Linked DNA regions of Homo sapiens. The protein of the gene in region 3 interacts with the protein of the main gene of each other region in a biochemical or structural test. Each region holds a gene or a part of one and is shown on either strand. Other genes may lie near its edges. The genes, in order: WAS, PXN, CRKL, STAT5A, PTPN11, KIT and MAP4K5.

Region 1 (2,564 bases), on a different chromosome or scaffold from region 3:
TCTCCCTGGGGCTGGCGACAGTGGACATCCAGAACCCTGACATCACGAGTTCACGATACCGTGGGCTCCCAGCACCTGGACCTAGCCCAGCTGATAAGAAACGCTCAGGGAAGAAGAAGATCAGCAAAGCTGATATTGGTGCACCCAGTGGATTCAAGTGAGAGCCACTCCCCAGTGGACCCACAGATTCCTGGGGGCAGAGGGGCACATGAACAAGTGGACAGCTGAGTGAATGGAAGGATGGGCAGATGGGCAGATGGCTGGGTGGCTGAGTGGGTAAATGGGTGGTTGGATAGGTAGGTGCAGGGCTGGGTCTAGGGAGAGGTAAATAAGGCACCAAGGGTACAAAATTTAAGGAGGCACTCACTCTCAGAGGCATGCAACTGTAATTCCTGACTCTCAGAGTGAGTGACTCACTTAAATTTTGCACCCTAGGCACCTTACTTGCCTCACCCTGGGCCCACTCTGGGTGGGCTGTTAGGAGAGCAGGTGGGTGGGCAGGTGAACAAATGGATAGATAGATGAGGTAGATGATGGATGAGAAGGGCTGGTGGGTAGGTGGGTGAGTGGATGGGTGGATGGATGGATAAATGAATGGATGAATGAATGGGTTGAAGAATGAATGGATAAGTGGTTGGATGGACAAGTTTATGGGTGGATGGGTTGATGGGAGGTGCGTGGATAGATAGATGGGTGAGTGGATAGGTGTGTGGACAGATTGATATGCAGGCTGATTGGCTCACAGACAAGGTGGATGGGGATGGACAGGTGGACAGATACGTGGATGAATGGACAGTTCAATGGATAAGTGAACAGAAGTGTGTGGTTGCATGGGTAGAAAAATGAGTGGATGGATAGATGGAAAGGTGGGCACATGGGTAGGTGGATGGGTGGATGGACAAGTGTGTGTGAGGACAGACTGGTGGACAAATGGGTGAACAGACATATGTGGGCAGATAGTTGCAGAGACAGATGTATGGACAGATCAGTAGTCCAACAGATGAATGTGAATGAATAGGTGGACAAATGCATGGGATAGATGGGGAAAGAGGGATGGGTGGATGGATCAGCACCACAAACTATGGAGCCCTTCTAATTCCATAACTCCTGCCTATACTCATTCACTCATTCAGTCTCATTCATTAATTCTGGCCCCTCAGAGTCTCTTTGGGCAGGAGAGGGCAAGAGGGTTTCACTATGAAGGGAGGGAAGGAAGGGCAGTGAGGATTCACTGGAGTCTCTTCACCTCTCCCAGGCATGTCAGCCACGTGGGGTGGGACCCCCAGAATGGATTTGACGTGAGTAACTTCAGAGTCTCTTGGACTCCACTAAACTTCCACCCACCCTTCCAAAGACCACTGCTGAGACCCCACCCCCAGATCGTGCCCTTCCCACACCCCTCTCAGATCCCTTGCTGGGATGGACCCAACGACAATCCATGTCGCTTGTCTCCTCGCCTTATTCCTCTACTCCTGCCCCTGGCCTTTTTCCTCCTGGGCAGGTGAACAACCTCGACCCAGATCTGCGGAGTCTGTTCTCCAGGGCAGGAATCAGCGAGGCCCAGCTCACCGACGCCGAGACCTCTAAACTTATCTACGACTTCATTGAGGACCAGGGTGGGCTGGAGGCTGTGCGGCAGGAGATGAGGCGCCAGGGTGAGACCCTGCTTCCATACGCTCCCTTCTCTAGCCCAAGCAGCTCATAGCTAAGATACGCACTAAGTCACTCAGTCCTTATGGGAGCACCTATACTGCTTCAGTCAGGAGTTGGTCAGTGGGGGTACCCATTTTACAAATGAGCAAAACTGAGGCTCAGAAGAAATCAATGAGAGTTACAGCTATGTGTTATACCCCCTCCACAGAGCCACTTCCGCCGCCCCCACCGCCATCTCGAGGAGGGAACCAGCTCCCCCGGCCCCCTATTGTGGGGGGTAACAAGGGTCGTTCTGGTCCACTGCCCCCTGTACCTTTGGGGATTGCCCCACCCCCACCAACACCCCGGGGACCCCCACCCCCAGGCCGAGGGGGCCCTCCACCACCACCCCCTCCAGCTACTGGACGTTCTGGACCACTGCCCCCTCCACCCCCTGGAGCTGGTGGGCCACCCATGCCACCACCACCGCCACCACCGCCACCGCCGCCCAGCTCCGGGAATGGACCAGCCCCTCCCCCACTCCCTCCTGCTCTGGTGCCTGCCGGGGGCCTGGCCCCTGGTGGGGGTCGGGGAGCGCTTTTGGATCAAATCCGGCAGGGAATTCAGCTGAACAAGGTGAGGACAGGCAGGATGGAGGATTGGGGGTCTAGGACTCTGGGGTGTCCCGTCTAAGTCAGGATACTGGGGGGCTGAGGCCAGGACTGAGGAGAGTGCCAGGCCTTAGGGATTCAGTGATAGGGTTGAAAGGTTGGTGGGAAGCCTTGAAGGGGACTGGAGTGTGTGGGAGAGAAAATATTGATGGAGGGGCGGGGAGAAATGCTCCTTTCCCAGGCCCTAAGCCCTCTGTGCTGATCCCTGCCTGCTGCAGACCCCTGGGGCCCCAGAGAGCTCAGCGCTGCAGCCACCACCTC
Region 2 (3,500 bases), on a different chromosome or scaffold from region 3:
AATAACCCCAAATGAGGCCTCTGAGTTGGATCCAGACAGCACAATGAGGAAGACCCCTCTCTCCCCACTGCCTGCTCCTCGCCCCTCCAGATGTGGTCAGGGGCTCCTTACCCGGCACACAAAGCACTCAGGATGCCACAGCGTGTTGAGGGCTGAGATATAGTTCTCCAGGATGGCCCGGGCGCAGCCGCCACACTTGGGTGCGAACATGTCGAAGTAGTCCTTGCGACAGTAGGCCTTGCCGTCCTTCTCGTGGAACCCTGGGGAGCGGGGGTTTTGGAGGCACAGTTCATTCCGGCTTCCAGAAGTGGAGCCACTCTGACTCCAACCTCAGCAGCGTCTCCCACCCCCACCTCCCCGGCCCTCCTAAGAGGCGGTGGGTCAGTCCGCCGGTCCAGCCCGTACCTTCGGGACCAAAGAAGGCTCCACACTGTGCACAGAAGAAGTGTTCAGGGTGCCACGTCCGGTCAAGGGCTGTCACCACTTTCTGTGAAAGCAAAATGTGGGATCAAGGCTGAGCTCTGGGCAGATCTCACAACTGAGACGCCCAGCAAGGCCGTCCTTCCACCCGCAGCTCATAGCCATAGACAGAGCAAAACACTCCCAAGATGGGGGTCTCTCCTAATTGTGCTGTGAATGCCTCTAAGAATTCAGAGTTACTCAGGATGGGACAAGCCAGACACATACCCTCTCCTCTACTCCTCACCCCAAGTAGAGGGCACAAGTTCTATGACTCCCATTTTATAAGTGAAGAAACATAGGCTCAGAGAGGCCAGGCATTTCCTAAGTTCACAGAGAGGGAGAGTGAGGCCGCTGGCATCCAACTCCATTTATCTCCTCAGGGCTCCTGAGTCCTGGGAGTCTCCACAGAAAGGAATCGAGATGGGAGGTGAAGGGAGGTGGGGCTGCCCGATGCACATCGGGACAGGCTGTGGTTCAGGTGTGGCTGTGAATCCGGCCCCACTGTTCCCTAGCCCTGTGAGCCTCGGGCATGTGACCTCTCTGAGCCTCCCACGGCACCCCCTGCATCCTCAGAGGGCTGCGGTGAAGCTGGAATGAGCGGAAGCGGGCGCGGTGCCGGATGAGGAACTCACATCCAGGATGGGGCCGTTGCAGTAGTAGCAGCGCGGGGAGAAGAGGTTGTGGTAGTCCTTTTCACAGTAGGGCTGTCCATCCCGCTCGAAGAAGTTCCGGGATCCGATCTCCTCCTGGCAGTGGGTGCAGACGAAGTGCTCGGGGTGCCACGTCTTCCCCATGGCGGTCACAACCTGAGGAGGAGATGGAATGCGGTCCAGGGCCAAGGCCAGCCCCGGAGCACCCCCACCCCTGCAGGAGTCCACTGGCCACACCCCTGCCCACTCCCCCTCATCACCTGCCCGGCGATGGGCTTCTTGCAGGCCCCGCAGACTCCTTTGGCGACTGTGGCGACCCCCAGCTTGTTCAGGTCAGACTGCAGGCTCCCCAGCATGCTGTCCAGCTGGCTCCCGGGCTTCGGGGGCCCCCCAGGGGGTGAGCTGCTCCCTGTCTTCCCCTGGGCCATGAACTGTGGACACGGAGGGGGCTGGTCAGGACTCCTGAGGCTCGGGGTACGGTGTCTGGCAGCACAGGGATGGGGGTACTTTTCTCCCTCCTGGACAGATGAGCTGATGGAGACAAGAAGTACAACCTCCTCCAGGGGCCAGGAGCCCTAAAGTGGGAGTGACGTCAGCAGGACTCCTGGTGGTCGGAGGGGCCCACCAGGGTCGGAAAGGCTGAGGGCACCCAGCAGGCATGGCCAAGCCCAGGGAGAGCACGACACGCAGGACACCCAGCCCAGCCTTGGCACTGACCCCTCCCTCGTCCTGCCCTCCGGGGCTGCTCCGCCCGCCGTCCCGAGGCCAGCCGGCCGCCCAGCACCGCTCCCCATCCGCTCTTTGCTCCAGGCCCTGGATCTTAGATAGGGGAAGAGATGAGGGTAAGAAATCTTTTTTAAAAATTAAGAAAGAATACAAGACCTTGTCACTGGACTAAAAGGGAATCTAGGATGAGATCTGAGGGTTTCTCCCCCACCGGCAGGACCAAAATTGGGGGAAAAAATCTGGAGAAAAAGAGCCCTGAGAGAGAGGCCTAGGGAGAAAGGAAGAAGGACAGGGAGGGGAGTCGACCAAAGGCAGAGGAAATGGCAAGGGGAGGTGGCCGGGCTCAGTGATGAGGCCTCACCGGGCGCTGGGCCTGGGGGCTGGAAGGGAGGAGACAGGTTTCTGGTCTCCCTTCTGGAGTGGCTTCTTTCCTCGATGGGAGCCCGGGGCAGTACTGAGGACCAGTCGAGGAAGGAGCAGACATGGGTGGACCCACAGAAAAGCAAGAGGGCAGCGGACCTTCTGAGTGGGGGAAGACCGGGGTCAAGGTTTACGGCAGGACTGTGGTTACTGTGCTGGGGCTTGTAGATGGAGGGATGGAGGGTATCTGTGTATGTGTGTGTGCACGTGTGTGTGTGCAGAGTGGGGGATGGCTCAGGCATTAGGACAGGGGACAGAAAGGGAGGGGCTCCTTTAAGGCCTGCCTGCATCGGGGGGAAGAGCGGGTCCTCATCAGTCTGGCAGCCCACGGACCTCATGGTGTGGGGTGCAGGAATGGGAAGGGCAGGGCCCTGCACCCCCTCATCATGGGGCTCTTCCCCTGCACTCTGGACCCCAGAAGAACCACAGGTATAAGCTGAGGGCCCCAGGGGGGAGGAGGCGAGCAGGCTGGGCAGGGGAGAAGAGCTGCTGGCCGCGGCGTCTGTGCGATGCTGGAGCAAAGGGACAGAAGGAGAAGCCAGGACAGAGATGGTTCTTCTCAGGGGAATGGGAGAGCCAGGAGGGAAGACAACCTGGGGAGAAGAAAGGAGGGAGAGCGATGAGGAAGAAATCGCCAGCTCAGCCCACAGGGGTGGCGGGACCTCCCCAGGCTCCCCCTGGGCCTTCCCACTCTGCACCAAGAGTGGGGCCAGTCTTCCAAAGTCACAGGAGGCAAGAAACCCCCACCCTCTCCCCAGATCTCCCCTCCGGCCAGCACTGGGGCCAGGGAAGAACCCGGACCCCAGGTGCTTGGCTCTGGCCCAGCCCCAGCCATGGGCATCTCCTCGCCACCTTCTCTACGAGCTGCCCCCCGGCCCGCTTCCCACGTGGCTGCACAGTGATGATGACGCCCTCGGTCAGCCAGTCCTGGGCAGAGGGCCCCGCCGCCTCCGCCGGCTCCTCTGCCTCAGGCTGGATGCCCAGCCGCCCCTGCAGCTCCGCGATGAGCTGTTCCTGGGATGGGGTCCTGCTCAAGGTGGCAGGGTCCAGCCGGCGGCGAGGGGAGGGCTCCCGGGACATGGGGTGTGCGTGGCCAGACTCCCAGCTCCTCCTGATCACAGATCGGATCTAGGGGGAGGGGGAGGGGAGGCTGTCACCGTCCCACTCCCAGCTTGCACAACGCTGCTCAGGCCACACTCAGATGCCTCAGGAGAGGGAGCACAAAAGAAAACCACCAAAGAA
Region 3 (3,500 bases):
ATAAAAAAATTTTAAAATGAAACGCTAACAGTGCGTATCTTCCAAAATCATCCAGTGCTCTAATTCCATGAATATAAGCTTAAATGAGCAGAAACTAAACTAAAACTAAAAATTAAAACCAAATGTCAAAGGACCCAAAAAGCTAATCTGAACAGATTTTACCTCTAATGCCAAGGCAGTCTTGTCATAAGCACAGGGTACTCTTTTCTGGATTGCTTTCGCAAAGACAGGTCCATTCTGTGTGGATGGCAAAGGGGTGATTGCTGCCCCAGGAGAACCGGAAACTGCAGGTAGAGGAGTTGTGGTCTGAGGTTGAGCGTATGCATGAGCAGGTTCTGGGATCCCATAACTGTTGGAATTCCTATTTCCATGCTTTCCGTGTGGTGAGGATCTCACAAGCTTTTCGACATAAGGGACAGGAATCATCCCAACCCGGCCATCCTTGTTCCGGGCACTCCACCACTGTTCTTCAGGCTTCTCTATTATCACTAGGATCTCACCCTTTTTAAAGGGCAGGTCTTCGGCATCATTCCCAGGAAAATCATACAGAGTCCGTACATATTCCAGGTTATCTTCTGCTGTAGGCAGGTTGGGTGCTGAGACAGATCCCATTGGTGGGCTTGGATACCTTAAGAGAGAAAGAAAATTACTCTAAGAGAAAAATCTTACTCTAAGCCAGTGCCTGTCAAACTTCTTAATATACCACTCTCCTCTATAATAAATTATTTTCCTTTTTTATGAGACAAGTTTTGCTCTTGTCGCCCAGGCTGGAGTGCAATAGCGTGATCTTAGCTCACTGCAAACTCTGCCTCCCAGGTTCAAGTGATGCTCCTGCCTCAGCCTCCTGAGTAGCTGGGATTACAGGCGCCCACTACCACGCCCAGGTAACTTTTTTTATTTTTAGTAGAGAAGGGGTTTCACCATGTTGGCCAGGCTGGTCTTGAACTCCTGACCTCGGGCGATCCACGCACCTCGGCCTCCCAACGTGCTGGGATTACAAGCATGAGCCACCATGCCCGGCCTCTACATTTTTTTTGGAGATGGAGTCTTGTTCTGTTGCCCAGGCTGGAGTGCAGTGGCAGGATCTCAGCTCACTGCAACCTCTGCATCCCAAGTTCAAGCAATTCTCCTGCCTCAGCCTCCTGAGTAGCTGGGACTACAGGCACATGCCACCACGCCCCGCTAATTTTTTCTATTTTTAGTAGAGACGGAATTTCACCTTGTTAGCCAGGATGGTCTTGATCTCCTGACCTCGTGATCTGCCTGCCTCGGCCTCCCAAAGTGCTGGGATTACAGGTGTGAGCCACTGAGCCCAGCCTTTTTTTTGGAGACAGAATCTTGCTCTGTCACCCAGGCTGGAGTGCAGTAGCGCAATTTCAGTTCACTGTAACCTCTACCTCCCGTGTTCAAGTGATTTTTCTGCCTCAGCCTCCCGAGTAGCTGAGATTACAGATGTGCAACACCATACCCAGCTAAATTTTGTATTTTTAGTAGAGACAGGATTTTGGCATGTTGGCCAGGCTGGTCTCAAACTCCTGCTGGCCTCATGTGATCCACCCGCCTCAGCCTCCCAAAGTGCTGTCATTACAGGTGTGAGCCACCACGCCTGGCTTTATTTTCCTTTCTATATTCTTAGTAGTTAAGAAGGTTCTATCATGTTGTAATTTTTGTAGTCTGTACTGTCCCAAAAGTTACTATTCTGAATGTCTTTTCAAATTACAAGTATACACACACACATACACTCCATCTCTGTTTTACAGAAACCTTTTGATTACACAGAGATACCTGGTTTAAATTTATTTTTATAATCTCAAGTAAGTTCGGAAGCTGCCTTCCTTTGGACCCTTGTCACAACCACCACACACTCTTCCTCCCAGTCCTAATCTATGGCTTACATCCTGCACACTTCCCTGGACACACAGAAAATGACAAAGGCCTCTGCCTCTGGCCTCTTGAAAAAAAAGGAACAAAAAAGGGCTTACAGACTTGCCAAATTAAAAATAATAAATCCACCAGGCGTGGTGGCTCAGACCTGTAATCCCAGCACCTTGGGAGGCCAAGGCAGGCAGATGACTTGGAGACCTGCCTGTCCAACATATCAAAACCCTGTCTCTACTAAACAGACAAAAAATGAGCCGGGCATAGTGGCACACACCTGCGGTCCCAGATACTCAAGAGGCTGAGGCAGGAGCATTACTTGAGCCCAGGAGTTAGAAGCTGCAGTGAGCTATGACTGCATCATTACACTCCAGCCTGGGCAACAGAACAAGACTGTCTCAAAACATAAATAAATAAGAGGCCGGCGCAGTGGCTCATGCCTGTAATCCCAGCACTTTGGGAGGCTGAGGTGGGCGGATCATGAGGTCAGGAGATCGAGACCATCCTGGCTAACACGGTGAAACCCCGTCTCTACTAAAAATACAAAAAATTAGCCGGGCATGGTGGTGGGTGCCTGTAGTCCCACTTACTCAGGAGGCTGAGGCAGGAGAACGGTGTGAGCCCGGGAGGCGGAGCTTGCAGTGAGCCAAGATTGCACCACTGCACTCCAGCCTGGGTGACAGAGCGAGACTCCGTCTCAAAAAAATAAAATAAAATAAAATAAAAATAAAAATAAATAGCTAGCAAGAGTAGTAGGAGCAAGAGTAATAATAAAGAGCTCATACTTATTATCTATGCTAGGCATGGTTTACGATCTTTGAAGAGATTGGATTATTTAATAGTCTGTGAGGTAGATGCTGTTATTATCCCCATTTTACAAATGAGGAGCCAAAGAAGAGGTTAGACTTGCACTCAGGGAGTCTGGTTCTAAACTCTTCACTCATAATGAGCTAATCAGCCTTAGGGACGAACCCTGCATCTGTCAGGTGTATGAGAATTAATGGCATAATGCATGTGAGGCATTCAAAATTACCGAGCAGCACCAAGCATCCAATGTACCGACATGAACACACACATACCCCTTCAAGTATATCCCTGCTTCTATTTCTTTCTCTTTTTTTTGAGACAGGGTCTTGCTGTCATCCTGGCTGGAGTGCAGAGTGGCACAACCACAGCTCACTGTAGCCTCCACTTCCCAAGCTCAAGTGATCCTCCCACTTCAGCCTCCTGAGTAGCTGGGACTACAGGCAGTTGCCATCACACACAGCCAATTTTTAAATTTTCTGTAGAGATGGGGGTCTCACTATGTTTTCAGGGCTTGTCTTGAACTTCTAGCCTCAAGCAATTCTCTCGCCTTGGCCTCCCAAAGTGTTGGGATTACAGGTGTGAGCCATCACACCCAGCCCCTGCTATTTCAAGAGCCACAGAGAGCCTGTGAACAGTCCAGTAAGTACCATATAAATTTCAGACACTATTAAGAGCACAGTCAGTTCCACCTTAGACTCCATCCAAGAGTATTTTATTATTTGTATAGTTAAAAGCAGTTAGCCAGTGTGTGGTGGCTCACGCCTGTAATCCCAGCACTTTGGGAGGCTGAGGTGGACGGATCACAAGGTCAGGAG
Region 4 (3,473 bases), on a different chromosome or scaffold from region 3:
AGTCTCCCTCCTGCTCACATCACCTTGTGTTCTCAGCTGGGATGAGATTTCCCAAGGACCCCCAATAAACACCAGCTGATGAATCCTGCCTGAGGGTCACTGAGACCCCTGGCTTGAATCCCATTCCTTCTGGTTCTTTTTCTGGCCATCTGATTTCCCTCTCCCTGCTCCCACCCCTGTCAAAGAATGAGAATCAACAAGCAAACCCAACCAATGGATTTGGGGCAGCTGGAAGAAGAGAGACTTCTCCCTTTTGCTGCCTGCACTCCACTCGGGGGAAGGTTTGTGAGCAGGGTGTGGAGAGCAGCTGGTGAGGTGGGGAGCGGAGCACTATCTGTGGGCTCGAATGATCCCGGCCACTCCCTACAGTGCTGCCACCCCTTCCTCCGAGGGTGCAGAAGTGAGAATCCATGCAGCTTTCACTTTGCAGAGAAGAGAGCTGGGACGGGTTTCTCGTTCCCTCTCCTCATTTGTGAGCCCTGAAATCCTCTCCACCACCCCATGGGCCAAAACCCACAGGGGACATGGCCCCTAGGCTCCTCCTGGGGAAGTCCCCACGGCGCAGCCCAAGGCTTTGTCTATGGGCTGGGGAAGAGCCCGGGGGAGTCAGCCGGCAGGGTCCTGGGGCAGTACCCACCCAGCACAGGAGTGTAGTACTTGGAGAAGACCTCATCCTTGGGGCGGTCAGGAAACACATAGATGAGATAGCTCAGGTCCCCCAGCCGGTCAGCCAGGGACCTGATGGAGAAATCCCGCGTGGTGAATGGTTTCAGGTTCCACAGGTTGCGTTCCGCTGTGAAAAGAACAGCCTCATTCCCATAATCCACCAGCAGCAGGAGGACCAAGGTTGTGGGGCTTTAGGGCAGGCTTGCAAGAGAAATCTGGGCTTTTATATAGTAGCTTGCGCTGCAGCCCCAGCCTGTAGGGAAGAAAGCCGATGCGGGATGTTCTACTCAGCAAACCAGATGAGCAGATACCAACAAGGCTGGGTCGTGGCAGAGAGGGGAGAGCGTGAAACTGCAGGAGGACTCGCCCAGCCGTCCTGGAGTCTATGGGGCTGGGGACTTCAGGTTCTCCAAAATGGAAAACAATAGAAAGAGAATACATTTCCAAGCCACAGCCCTCTCATACTAAGCTTCCCGCTGGGTACCTTCTAAGGACACAGGCCCGATGGAGGGTGGGGTGGCGGGGCAAGGGAACAAGAGACCGGGCCTTGGGGCTGGAGTGTGGGCAAAACGGGCACTCACGGGAGTCAAACTTCCAGGCGATGGTGATGCCCCCGATTTCTGAGTCACTAAAGCGCAACAAGAAGGTCCCGTCGGGCTTGTTGATGAGCAGGTCGTGGGCCTGTTGCTTATTCACAAAACCTAGGATGGCCCTGGGTGCACGGAGCATTGAGCGTCACCACTGGGCCACAGCCACAGTCTCTCTGCGCCCACAGCTGGCCCCTGACCCTGCAGCCCCCGTTCCTTACCCATCATTCCAGTGGGGCTTGTGGTGCTTCTTCAACACCTCCATCACCCCGTCAAACCACTGCCAGAAGGTGTAGTTCCAGCCCGGCAAGTTCTCCTGAGGGCCCAGGAACCCCCGAGTCAGGGCTGGTGCCCCAGGTCACAGGTGGCCCAGGAAAGTCAGGGCCCTCCTGCCCCCACCCAGTCTTCTCCCAGTTCTTCACCCCTGCTTGCCACCACACTCCAGCAGACCATAAAGTGACACAGCCCCCAACTTGTACCCTAGGAAAACAGAGAGGAAACTCACTTCTAAGACACAGGGGTCCAAGACCAGCCCAAGGGTGGGAGTAAGAGGTGTAAAGAATAATCTAGGCTGGATGGGGCCTCCAAAGTCATTCCTCCAAAGTCATCCCCTCATTTTACAGGTGGGGAAACTGAGGCACAGAGAATGGATGGGTCTTCAAAAATTAGCAAGGAGAGAGGCAGAAGGAGAGCCAGAGCCACAGGCGTGGTGGCTCACGCCTGTAATCCCAGCACTTTGGGAGGCCGAGGTGGGCGGATCACCTGAGGTCAGGAGTTCGAGACCAGCCTGACCAACATGGTGAAACCCCATCTCTACTAAAAATACAAAAATTAGCCCAGCATGGTGGCAGGCACCTATAATTCCAGCTACTCAGGAGGCTGAGGCACGAGAATCACTTGAACCCGGGAGGCAGAGGTTACAGTAAGCTGAAATCACGCCACTGCACTCCAGCCTGGGTGACAGAATGAGATTCTGTCTCTAAAAAAAAAAAAGAAAATTAGCAAACACATCTAGGCCCAGAACCCAAGGATCCTGACTCCCAGCCCTGGGCCCTCCGTCATCTCGCTCTTGGCTTCACAACTAAGCACAACTCCTATAGCCCCTGCCTGCATTTCTTGAGGCTAGGGGCCCCCATCTCTCCTGGTTGTAGGAGAGAGTGGTTGGGGGTGGAGAGTGGGGTGCTAGCCCCAGGCAGTAACCTGTCTGTGAGGTGGAGGAGCAACAGACCCCGGTGGGCCCTGGTGGGCGGCTGGCAGCTGGGCCCCTCACCCTGTTGAACTGGGACCAGGACACGGACAGGCCACTGTAGTCCTCCAGGTGGCTGCTGCTGTTGTTGAACAGTTTCTGCGCCAGGAACACGAGGTTCTCCTTGGTCAGGCCCCGGTTGCTCTGCACTTCGGCCTTGAATTTCATGTTGAGCGCCTCACACAGCTGCGGCCACAGCACTTTGTCAGGCACGGCAAATGGCACCCTGCCCTGAGAGGGAGACAAGAGAGGGGAAAAGGTAGATTGAGGGAGTTGGAAATATTCACACACACACAAGATACACAGACACCTAGAGACAGAGGAGACTGAGACAGATCCAGAAAGGTGACACAAATGCAAGGGCAGGAAATGCGGCGGCTTTTATATACTAGCTTGCACTTTTTTTCCCAGCCTGCAGGGAAGAAAACCGATGCAGGGGGTGGGGGCATGCAGGGACAGAGATGCAGACCAGGAAACAGAAAACAGAGAGCAAGGACCCAAGCCATCTGCCAAAGGAGGATCCCAGACCAGGATCCAAAGACCAAGCTCACAGTCCTCACAGACCCCAGTCCAGGAACCTGGAACCCAGAGTGCCAAGGCCATGGTGGAAGGCAGGCGCCCAGCACCCCAGCCCTTCTGGCCTCACCTCACCTCTGGGCTGGCCCTGGGGTGAGGAAGGACCACTCAGCAGGGGCCCAAGGGGTGGGGCTGACCCCAGGTGAGTCCTAGGGCCTGGGGGTGCTGGGGTAGGGCTCCCACGGGGACTCACCGGCTCAGCAAAGGCATTGTCCCACAGCACAGTAGCCGTGGCATTGTGGTCCTGGCTGCCGTGGACGATGACAACCACAGGTAGGGACAGAGTCTACAGGAGTCAAAGGAACCCAAGTTGATGGGGCGTGACCACCACGTGCCCTCTGCTTAGGCAACATGCCCAATCTGCTTTATTTTTTTTTATGTATTTTTTTTTTTGATAT
Region 5 (3,500 bases), on a different chromosome or scaffold from region 3:
GCAGAAAAATCACCCAAAGGTAACATCTTGCCAGACCCATTTTTCAACTGGAGATTTACCTGACAGCGAATCATAACATGGGTCACTTTAGACTTGCCGTCATTGCTCTCCCCTTTGTCATCACCAGTGCGCACAGAAAGAACAAAATCTCCAGGGTGGCTCTGGCTCTCTCGTACAAGAAAACTACCATGTTTTCCTTTTTCAGTTAATAATTTCTCTGCTTCTTTCCCAGAGAGATGTCCATGAAACCACCTAAAGTTTTTAAAAAATAAAAAAGAATTTAGCTCTACTATGGGTTCATGTTGTTCTTTCACAAAACTACTGTATACAGTCAGCTCTCCTAAACACAATTAAAAAGTAGACACATTCCTCCAAGGGATTGATCAATCCCACCTGAGACAGAAAATCTGCATCCCATGCAGGCAGGAAAAACCACAAAGATGGTAAGAATGACCACTAAACTTCTTAAATGAGTCCACAGTCCTTTAGAGACAAATGCCCCAATCTTTCCTGTTTTTTTTTAAATCCCTCCTCTTTTAAAAATGCAATTTGCCATTCGTCCATTGCCCAATCTTAAAAGGACCAACTGTTTAATTATAGCCATTTAAAGAAGTTACAGGCCATGCATAGTGGCTTATGCCTGTAATCCCAACACTTTGGAAGGCCAAGGCAGGAAGATCACTTGAGGCCAGGAGTTCAAGACCAGTCTGGGCAACACAGTGAAATCCCCATCTTCACAAAACAATTAAAAATTAGCCTGGCATGGTGGCAACTGCCTGTAATCCCAGCTATACACAAGGCCGAGGCAGGAGGATCACTTGAGTCCAGGAGGTCGAGGCTGCAGTGCGCTATGATCATGCCACCGCACTCCAGCTTGGGTGACAGAGCAAGACCCTGTCTCAAGAAAAAAAAATAAAAGTCGGCCGGACGTGGTGGCTCATGCCTGTAATCCCAACACTTTGGGAGGCCGAGGCAGGTGGATCACCTGAGGTCAAGAATTCGAGACCAGCCTGACCAACATGGTGAAACCCTGTCTCTGCTAAAAATACAAAATTGGCCGGGTGTGGTGGCAAGTGCCTGTAATCCCAGCTACTCAGGAGGCTGAGGCAGGAGAATCACTTGAACCTGGGAGGCGGAGGTTGCAGTGAGCTGAGATCGCACCATTGCACTCCAGCCTGGGTGACGAGCGAAACTCCATCTCAAAAAAAATAAATAAATAATTTGTAAAAATAAAGTCAAAATAAAGAAGTTGTAATAAAAAGTTGTAATAGAGACAGGCACGGTGGCTCACGCCTATAATCCCAGCACTTTGAGAGGTCAAGGTGGGCGGATCACCTGAGTTCAGGAGTTTGAGACCAGCCTGGCAAACATGACAAAACCCTGTCTCTACTAAAAATACAAAAATTAACTGGGCATGGTGGCACATGCCTGTAGTCCCAGCTACTCGGGAGGCTGAGGCAAGAGAATTACTTGAATCTGGGAGGCGGAGGTTGTAGTGAGCCGAGATCGCGTCACTTGACTCCAGCCTGGGTGACAGAGTGAGACTCCATCTCAAATAAATAAATTAAAAAAAAGAAAGAAAAAGTTGTAACAGAGACAGAAAATCATTTTGAATGTTTGTCCTTGCCTTGGCATGTGAACACTCAATTAAAAAGGATCTTCATTATAAATTAATTCAAACATTCCAACCTTTTCCATATATACAACCTATACTTCAACAGCCTCCAGTGTCTTTGGACTATATCCTGGGTGATCATCTCAAACTGTATAATGCACATAAGACTTGGAGTAAAAATGAGGGATTTTGCTAAAAATATGAATTCCCAGGCTCCACAACCAGCAATATCAATACATGTAAGTCTGAATGAGGCCCAGGAATCTGCATTTTAACCAGCACATCAGACAGTCCTGATGTAGGCATCCAAAGCCATCCAAGGACAGACTTTGAGACAATACTGCTCCATGTTTTTTGGGAAGCATCTTAACATAGTTCTAATAATAAAGTGGCTTTTTCCCTCAGGATCTTGGTCAGAAAGCAAGTACTATCATGGCAGGTGGTGTTAAGGGCTCATCATCAAAAGAATAAACTTTGAGTTATTCTTCATCCATACTCAACTGAAAACAGTAAAATTTAGAAATAAACTGTACAGAGTTGGCTGACAGCCTTTTGCCTGAAGCTACGGTGGTAGCTAGAGAAACAAATTATCAGCACATAATAGCACTGACATAAAGGTATAAGCTGAAAAAATCATACCTGAAGACACAAAATATACAAACTAACTAAGAGATCCTGAATTTGCACCAAGTCAGAGAGGAGATTGGGAATGTACAAAACGAATACAATCAATAAATAAGTCAAGCCCATGCTTTCATCAGCCTAGTTCCAACACAGGGGGAAAGATCTCGAAAATAACATAATTTTCTCTAAGCAAGGTCATTCTCACATAATTGTGGTGATAACATTAAAAGAACTGATGAAAAAGCTGACCCTCTGAGCTCTCTGCTTTTCCACTTCTGAGCTTAAACTGACATCTGTTGGTGACATTGCTGAATAACTGGTCGAGAGCCACCATAGAAAACTGCTGCTATTTTGGTGTCTCCATTATCATTTGTTTTCCTCTAATAACTCTCAAAGATTATCTGCTGAAGTTCAATAAGTCTTAAAACTAATACACGTACCAAGTATATGCAGGAATGGTATGCAACCCCTATAGGATGAGTGTAAGTAACACTGATTAAAACTTTTGCAGGAAAAAGGTACTCTGAAAATAATTTGATGCTATTAGTCTCACTTTAGTAATTCTTTAAAGATTACAGCTCAAAAAACAGTCACAAGCCTTTGGAGTCAGAGAGTCATACACAGACCGTCATGCATTTCTGACACTCAGGGCACAAGGGAGCAGCAGACTTTGTGGTCACTAAAATGTTACTGACCTTTCAGAGGTAGGATCTGCACAGTTCAGAGGATATTTAAGCTCAATGACATCTCCATTCTTCTCTTTTAATTGCCCGTGATGTTCCATGTAATACTGGACCAACTCAGCCAAAGTGGCAAATTTCTCCCCTCCATACAGGTCATAGTAATCACCAGTGTTCTGAATCTTGATGTGGGTGACAGCTCCATTTCTTCTAAAATAGTCCATTGGAAAGGGAGGCAAGGGGACAAATAAAGAGTTACACCAGTAAAATCAGATCTCATCTTCCACGTCGGATTTTACCTAAGTGTTGAAAGAAACCCAAGGAACGAATTTACCTATTCCCTATAAGAAATACGATGGGTGAAATAACCACATGTCAACCAACTCAACACAAAGGTCTTTATTAGTATCTTTACCTTGCATATCTTTTTTTTTTTTTTTTGAGATGGAGTTTCGCTCTTATTGCCCAGGCTGGAGTGCAATGACGTGATCTCGGTTCACCGCAACCTTCGCGGTGGATTTACATACATTATAAATCCAGGTTCAAGTGATTCTCCTACCTCAGCCTCCCAAGAAGCTGGG
Region 6 (3,500 bases), on a different chromosome or scaffold from region 3:
AAATGGAAACAATTATGTTTACATAGACCCAACACAACTTCCTTATGATCACAAATGGGAGTTTCCCAGAAACAGGCTGAGTTTTGGTCAGTATGAAACAGGGGCTTTCCATGTCACCTTTTTGGGTACACATAACAGTGACTTTAAGGAACTCCAGTGGCTTCCTTTGTTTTGTTCCACCTGAAACAATGAGTTTTCTGTGAAATTGCGCCCCTTTTGATAGGTTTGCCATAGAGAACATCGTAGGAAAATGTCTCTGGACAACATTGTTTTTAATTCCTTTATTGATTTTGAAACTGCACAAATGGTCCTTCAATTCCACCACCAGCACCATCACCACTTACCTTGTTGTCTTCCTTCCTACAGGGAAAACCCTGGGTGCTGGAGCTTTCGGGAAGGTTGTTGAGGCAACTGCTTATGGCTTAATTAAGTCAGATGCGGCCATGACTGTCGCTGTAAAGATGCTCAAGCGTAAGTTCCTGTATGGTACTGCATGCGCTTGACATCAGTTTGCCAGTTGTGCTTTTTGCTAAAATGCATGTTTCCAATTTTAGCGAGTGCCCATTTGACAGAACGGGAAGCCCTCATGTCTGAACTCAAAGTCCTGAGTTACCTTGGTAATCACATGAATATTGTGAATCTACTTGGAGCCTGCACCATTGGAGGTAAAGCCGTGTCCAAGCTGCCTTTTATTGTCTGTCAGGTTATCAAAACATGACATTTTAATATGATTTTGGCAATGCTAGATTATAAACTGCTTGGAAGATTTTTTTACCCAGACTGTTGTTCTCTCTTGCTAGATTTTGTTTTCCTCATTGTTCTTAAGAATGCAGATTTTAATTTTATCATTATGGGGTAGAACAGCCCAGGACATACCCTAGTTATTGTCGTATTTGTAACATCAACGACATCAGCCTCTTGAATATCTCATCCCGACCAGAAGGCTTCTGTTATCTTGTAAGCTTTATACATTTCTTGATCATATGTAGCCACTGAAAGGGTTAATATTAATTTGCATACTACAATTTAAAACAGGCGCCTAAGCCTACTGGTTCTCAAATATACACCAAATGAGGCAAACATTTCACTTCTCTAAAAATAAGTTTCCAATTTGAAGCCTTAGTTGAAGTTCCCATCAAGGATGTCTGTGATGTTTGCAGAAAGTATTTCAGTTGAAAGAAACAAAGATGTGTAAAATGAGCTGTTTCTGGAGATCCACGATAAAGTTGACAGCCTTATATCATGTCTTCCAATAATCCCCATAAATGTTGCTTCACCACATCATGAATTGTTCATGAGAAAATTTCTTACCCAAGTTAATTAGTTGCCTGTTACTTCTAAACTACAGTTTAAACATTCATAGCACCAAAAAATTTTTCAACTAGTAGCGCTCAGAACACAGGTCATTTTAGGTTTTCACTCACTTTCCAGTCTTGTCCCAGCTGGCTGCTCCTTGTGGCTGATTTTCCCACTATGCCACAGTTTGTGCCTTCATTATTTCCATAATAACGTTACAGAGAGTGTGTGAAGCCCTGCTGTAAACAGAAGTGAACCAGAGGATTCACGTAGGAAGCTTGATAATAGTAGAATCTTTGAAAGCAGTAACTTCTCTCTGTAAAACCAGCAGTCATGCTTGGCTCCAAATACTAATGTCACTTAGAAATTCAGGTTAAAAGAGGCTTGCTTGTTTTATGTTACTCCACATAAGGCTGCTTTTTTGATAAGCAGTGTTAATATATGGGATTGTATTGGGACTAAGTAGTCTGATCCACTGAAGCTGAATATTAATGGCCATGACCACCCTTGGGTATTTTTATGGGAGGCAGAATTAATCTATATATCTCACCTTCTTTCTAACCTTTTCTTATGTGCTTTTAGGGCCCACCCTGGTCATTACAGAATATTGTTGCTATGGTGATCTTTTGAATTTTTTGAGAAGAAAACGTGATTCATTTATTTGTTCAAAGCAGGAAGATCATGCAGAAGCTGCACTTTATAAGAATCTTCTGCATTCAAAGGAGTCTTCCTGGTAAGACTGATTTACATAAATAGTTAGCTGTTGACAGGCAGTTCATGGGGTCATAAGGGTTTGCAATCAAGGCTGATTCTTTAAAAAATGAACTGAGGTACTCTGAGGTATGAAATCAAAATTATTAAATCATTTAAATGTGATTAACAGTTTAGAAAGTTAAATTGTGTTTTTAAAGATTCAAACCTAGATTTTTGCTGATTTTTTAAAAATGTATTTTCAGTTTTCTTCTACACTTTAGTTCCATGCAACTGAATGCATTCTATATCTGTTTCTCTTACGGTTCTGTCCTGCATGTATTTCCATTTATACTATTGAGCTTGGTACTACATGCATGTTTCCAGTGAGATACTGTTTATAGGGAAAATGCTAAAGCCTCTCAAGTTGCCACAGTAAAGTCCCTTTAAAACCTTTAGCAGAATGACAAAGAGCTCTGAACATATCTCCACATGTAGGCTTCTTGCCATCGACCTCTGGATTATTCCTGTATACCTTGCCTCTTGCCCTTTTTATTTCATCATGCTATTAAAAGACATAACTACTCCAGCACATTTTTTAAAAATTCTGGACATTATTCTCATCTCTTTCATCATTGATGCCATTCTGAATTTGAATCATGTATAAAGAGCTTTGAGTTTGACTTACAACCAGAAAAGAATTCTTCTCATATCTTGCCTATTCTTTCTTTGGAAATGCTCTTAAGGGCCACCATTTGAGAAGACTTCCTAGATGTACCCAGTCCAACAGAAGTCATGGTTATTTTGCCCAGTCCCCTATACTGTATATTGCTGCAGTTGTGTGGTAGATTTCTCCTATCCTTTTCATGCACTTTATATCCACTGCATCTTGCAATGGCAAGACATTGCCTCCTGAACTCTTAACACCAGGTCCTCAAGGAGACCTCAGTAAATATTATTGATGGGCAATTACCCCTTAAAGCCATTTTCTGTACCTCTGGCTAAAGTTTAAAACCCCAGGTGAAACTTTTTATTTTTTTTTAATCCTATAAACTTGAGTAGTTTAAAGTGGTAGTAGAAACTGTACAAAACCACTTTTTGTTAGTTTCTCCTGGGCATGTGCTCATTATATGAAGAAATGAGCCATTTTGCTTCTTTCCGAAACCTTGGCCCTATATATATCCTTTAACTTTCTGATATAATGGCCTAAATTGTTCAATCCTGTGTGATGTTCTTTGTGCTTTGGGATCCCATATGGGATTGGAACCACCAGCACACTCTGAAGGAGATTGTTGTCATGGTGTTTCTATGCTAATCAGAAGCAGGAAGTACTAGAAATCTTGAAGAGTCTCCAGCCAAATGTTGCAGATTGAAGAGGTCCAGATGGTTCAGAAAATCATCCAAATTATTGGTGTTTATCTGAACCAACTTGATTTTTTTTTAAACCTTCCTCCATCAGTCACTATATGTTAACGATCTCTGCCTCCTGCATAACACGTCTTGGAAGCTCTTCT
Region 7 (3,500 bases), on a different chromosome or scaffold from region 3:
TATTTTTTATTATATGGAATTGTAGCCCTGTTATCCTTGTATCATGGCTTATAATATTGGTTGGTTTTACTTTTTTAAGTATTTCCATCTGTTATATTTAAGACTTCATTCACAATGATTTTTAATCCAAGGTAATTTGTTAAGTTATTGATAAATAGGTCTGTCCCAGAGAAATAATAATATAGCTTTATAGAATTTTCCATCTTGTATTAAAATAATCACATGTACATCATTGTAACTCAGTCCATAACATAAGATTTTGTACAACAATTTCTTTTTGTGTGCTGGCATCATTAAGGTTTAGTCTGCCCAGATCACCTATTAGTACCTAATTTATATATTCTGAATTAAAATTATCTGTTAATTTAAAAACATTTTATCTATTGTCTTTCAAAATAGTATTAACTGAGGGTTTTTTTGTGTGTGTTTTTCTATTTTGCTTGGCTTTTTGAACATTACTGGACTCTCGTTTTAGAAGGTAATTACGTTTTCTTTTTCTCGAAAATTGTATTTCTCTGCTGTAAATGATTCTCAAAAAGGTAACATGTTTTTCTTTTATAGGAAAAACCTTTCAGCTCTACTCTCACAATCTTATAGCTTTGTTTGAACATGCCAAAAAACCAGGATTAGCTGCCCATATTCAAACTCACAGGTTTCCAGACCGAATACTACCAAGGTACAAAATATCATTTTGATTCTACTGAATGAGGGGAATTAGTGTTTATTTTAAAAATAGCCCGTATTTCTTGCCCAGTAAAAAACTATGTCTTAATTTTCAAAGGTAGTTTAAACTAAAGTGTATTATATCTGGAAAAGCTGAACGTTTTCTGAACTTGACCATGAGAATCAACTGTGGAAGTTTTATAATACAGACTGTCAGGCCCTTCCTCAGTCCTATAAGATGAGATAGTGTGGAGTTAGGATCCAAGACAGTTTTTTAAGCTCCTTTCTGTCTGATTCTGATGCAACTGATTTACAAATCATTGTGTTGTAACCACTACTGTAGAGTGCATTTATATCGTCTTACGTTTTCAGAAAATTCGCTTTAACAACAAAGATTCCTGATACAAAAGGCTGCCACAAATGTTGCATAGGTGAGTAAATGGTATTTCTCAAACTGAATGGTTAGAACTTTTAACATCTTTATAATTATCTGAAGAGTCGTATGGAATCAAATAGGAAGGAGGGTAGGTTTTTAAAATTTGTGTTTAGTAAGAAGTTAAGCTGCCATTGAAGTACAAGAATATAGACAGACATGGCATAGAAATGCTTAGAGATAATAACCTTAGCGTTTTCTCAGAGCATAGTGTTCCTAGAGTTTTTTAACCATAGTCCCTGAGGCTGTATCTTTGCTAATATTCTAACTTTCATTTATTTAATATTTGCCATCTACCAGTTACCACCCATGTTTTATGAACATGTTTACAGGAGTTGAGCCAACTATGCAGTTAGAGGGAACAGTTCACACAAGAACACCCTCACTTATGATACCAATTGCAAGTTAGGGGATTCCCAAAACTACCCCCAGAATAAAAAAATTCACTAGAAGGTATCACGGAACTGGAAGCAGTTATACTCATAGTTACGATTACAATTTAGAACAGGGAAAAAATATAGATTTAAATCATTACCGTTTAGAACAGGGAAAGAATATAGATTAAAATCATTACCGTTTAGAACAGGGACAGAATATAGATTAAAATCAGCCAAGGGAAGAAGTACATAGGGCAGAGTCCAGGAAAAATACCAAACATGGAGCTTCTGTTGTCCTCTCCCTATGGTTAATGGATGGCGTTACTTTTCCAGCATTGGTATGTGGCAGAACACACAACCATTGCCAACCACTGCCAACCACAAGCTTATTCGAGCCTCGATGTCCAGAGTTTTTATTGGGGCTTCATCACAAAGGCATGATTGATTGACCACCTTGCTGATCTCAGTATGCAGCCCCACTAAAGGTCATCTGATGTTACATGACCCAAAGCCCCCACCCAAAATCACATTTTTTGTATTTCTGGCATGATTGATTGACCACCTTGCTGATCTCAGTATGCAGCCCCACTAAAGGTCATCTGATGTTACATGACCCAAAGCCCCCACCCAAAATCACATTTTTTGTATTTCTGGCATGACCAGCCCTCACATTAAGACTATCTAGTGCAGCCAGTCCCCACCCTGAATCATTATTGTTATATTATCCAGTGACCAGAGTCCCCCAGACAAAGACAGTCCTGTCAAGCATGACATTCCAAAGGCTTAGCAATTACCTCCCAGAAGCAGGACAGAGACCAGACCTCTTTTTTGGGTGAGGTTAAGTTCTTTACTACATAATTATCTCATTTAACCCTTAAACAACTCCATAATACTGATTGTGTCACTAGTAAGTAACAGAGCTTAGGAATCAGATTCAGGTTCAATGACTTCAGATCTTAAGTTCCTAACTTCCTATTTATTCTTTTGTTTGATCAATGAATTTACACATTGATCTTTGTGCCACATAATAGTTTCACAGCATAGTCCATACTGTAAAACAAAAATGTTTAACCACAAATGTGCTATAAATATTATTTTTCTAGGGAGAATCATGTCAATATCTATTATCAGATTCCCAAGATCTGTGATGCACAAAAGGCCTAGAAACTTGGAATCTAAGATAAAAACTCATAAATAATACTTTAGAGTTTAATGCAAATAACTATTCTTATAATCAATGATTATAATTATTAATGGAAATCAAATTTGGGAGAAGGAAAGAGCAATATGAATTTTTATAGATTTGAGTCAAGATTACATCATGATAAATTAATACATACAAGATGAATTATTTTCATCTTAAGTAGACATCTGTACACTGCTATACCAAAACGAGGTGCATTTTAGTTGCCTCCTAGACCTTGTCAGAACTCATTCTTTGAGTTTACTAAGAAACAACTTTTTGGGGAGGCCAAGATGGGAAGATCGGTTGAGTCCAGGAGTTCAAGACCAGCCTGGGAAACATAGTGAGACCCCATCTCTTAAAAAAAAAAAAAATTGAAAAATTAGCTGGGCATGGTGGCATACACCTATAGTCTCTGCTACTCAGGAGGCTGATGTGGGAGGATTGCTTGAGCCTGGGAGATTGAGGCTGCAGTTAGCTATTACTGTGCCACTGCATTCTAGCCTGAATGACAGAGCAAGACCCTGTCTCTTTAAAAAGAAAGAAGGAGGACGGGAGGGAGTGAGGAAGGGAAAAAAACACCTTTTTAGGTTGCATGTTAGGTTGTTATTGTGCTTGTCAAAAGTTCTTATGTTTAACAACCTAGTATATGCAAGTTGTTTAGAAGTAAACATATATAATTTAAAATTGAGATAAGAAAGTAAAACGGAAAAGGCAATGAAGCCAAAAGAAAAGACACAGTCTTTTTTTATTTTCTGCCCACTCTTGTCATCCTGGTTAACAGATACAATGAAAGTATTCAGTATTTTGAGTGTGTCTGGGTTTTTTGTTTGTTTATTTCTTT

Evidence for each region.
Region 1: the proteins of CRKL (region 3) and WAS form a complex in vitro, tested with the Homo sapiens proteins (one study listed by BioGRID).
Region 2: the proteins of CRKL (region 3) and PXN form a complex in vitro, tested with the Homo sapiens proteins (one study listed by BioGRID).
Region 4: the proteins of CRKL (region 3) and STAT5A form a complex in vitro, tested with the Homo sapiens proteins (one study listed by BioGRID).
Region 5: the proteins of CRKL (region 3) and PTPN11 form a complex in vitro, tested with the Homo sapiens proteins (one study listed by BioGRID).
Region 6: the proteins of CRKL (region 3) and KIT form a complex in vitro, tested with the Homo sapiens proteins (one study listed by BioGRID).
Region 7: the proteins of CRKL (region 3) and MAP4K5 form a complex in vitro, tested with the Homo sapiens proteins (one study listed by BioGRID).

Annotation. Positions count from the first base shown.
Region 1 is NC_000023.11:48,686,799-48,689,362, forward strand, and holds part of WAS (actin nucleation-promoting factor WAS), read left to right. Parts: coding exon 1-157; intron 158-1,255; coding exon 1,256-1,298; intron 1,299-1,501; coding exon 1,502-1,655; intron 1,656-1,861; coding exon 1,862-2,268; intron 2,269-2,521; coding exon 2,522-2,564. UniProt on the Homo sapiens protein: Effector protein for Rho-type GTPases that regulates actin filament reorganization via its interaction with the Arp2/3 complex. Important for efficient actin polymerization. Possible regulator of lymphocyte and platelet function.
Region 2 is NC_000012.12:120,213,731-120,217,230, forward strand, and holds part of PXN (paxillin), read right to left. Parts: intron 3,387-3,500; coding exon 3,111-3,386; intron 2,852-3,110; coding exon 2,543-2,851; coding exon of another isoform or gene 2,200-2,542; intron 1,932-2,199; coding exon 1,830-1,931; intron 1,688-1,829; coding exon of another isoform or gene 1,544-1,687; coding exon 1,373-1,543; intron 1,269-1,372; coding exon 1,095-1,268; intron 488-1,094; coding exon 406-487; intron 261-405; coding exon 112-260; intron 1-111. UniProt on the Homo sapiens protein: Cytoskeletal protein involved in actin-membrane attachment at sites of cell adhesion to the extracellular matrix (focal adhesion). Recruits other proteins such as TRIM15 to focal adhesion.
Region 3 is NC_000022.11:20,930,907-20,934,406, reverse strand, and holds part of CRKL (crk-like protein), read right to left. Parts: intron 629-3,500; coding exon 163-628; intron 1-162. UniProt on the Homo sapiens protein: May mediate the transduction of intracellular signals.
Region 4 is NC_000017.11:42,305,498-42,308,970, reverse strand, and holds part of STAT5A (signal transducer and activator of transcription 5A), read right to left. Parts: intron 3,362-3,473; coding exon 3,269-3,361; intron 2,731-3,268; coding exon 2,524-2,730; intron 1,570-2,523; coding exon 1,475-1,569; intron 1,379-1,474; coding exon 1,248-1,378; intron 794-1,247; coding exon 638-793; intron 1-637. UniProt on the Homo sapiens protein: Carries out a dual function: signal transduction and activation of transcription. Mediates cellular responses to the cytokine KITLG/SCF and other growth factors. Mediates cellular responses to ERBB4.
Region 5 is NC_000012.12:112,449,947-112,453,446, reverse strand, and holds part of PTPN11 (tyrosine-protein phosphatase non-receptor type 11), read right to left. Parts: intron 3,130-3,500; coding exon 2,935-3,129; intron 253-2,934; coding exon 60-252; intron 1-59. UniProt on the Homo sapiens protein: Acts downstream of various receptor and cytoplasmic protein tyrosine kinases to participate in the signal transduction from the cell surface to the nucleus. Positively regulates MAPK signal transduction pathway. Dephosphorylates GAB1, ARHGAP35 and EGFR.
Region 6 is NC_000004.12:54,727,457-54,730,956, forward strand, and holds part of KIT (mast/stem cell growth factor receptor Kit isoform 1 precursor), read left to right. Parts: coding exon 1-86; intron 87-366; coding exon 367-471; intron 472-554; coding exon 555-665; intron 666-1,878; coding exon 1,879-2,029; intron 2,030-3,500. UniProt on the Homo sapiens protein: Tyrosine-protein kinase that acts as a cell-surface receptor for the cytokine KITLG/SCF and plays an essential role in the regulation of cell survival and proliferation, hematopoiesis, stem cell maintenance, gametogenesis, mast cell development, migration and function, and in melanogenesis.
Region 7 is NC_000014.9:50,435,070-50,438,569, reverse strand, and holds part of MAP4K5 (mitogen-activated protein kinase kinase kinase kinase 5), read left to right. Parts: intron 1-475; coding exon 476-478; intron 479-561; coding exon 562-676; intron 677-1,035; coding exon 1,036-1,094; intron 1,095-3,500. UniProt on the Homo sapiens protein: May play a role in the response to environmental stress. Appears to act upstream of the JUN N-terminal pathway.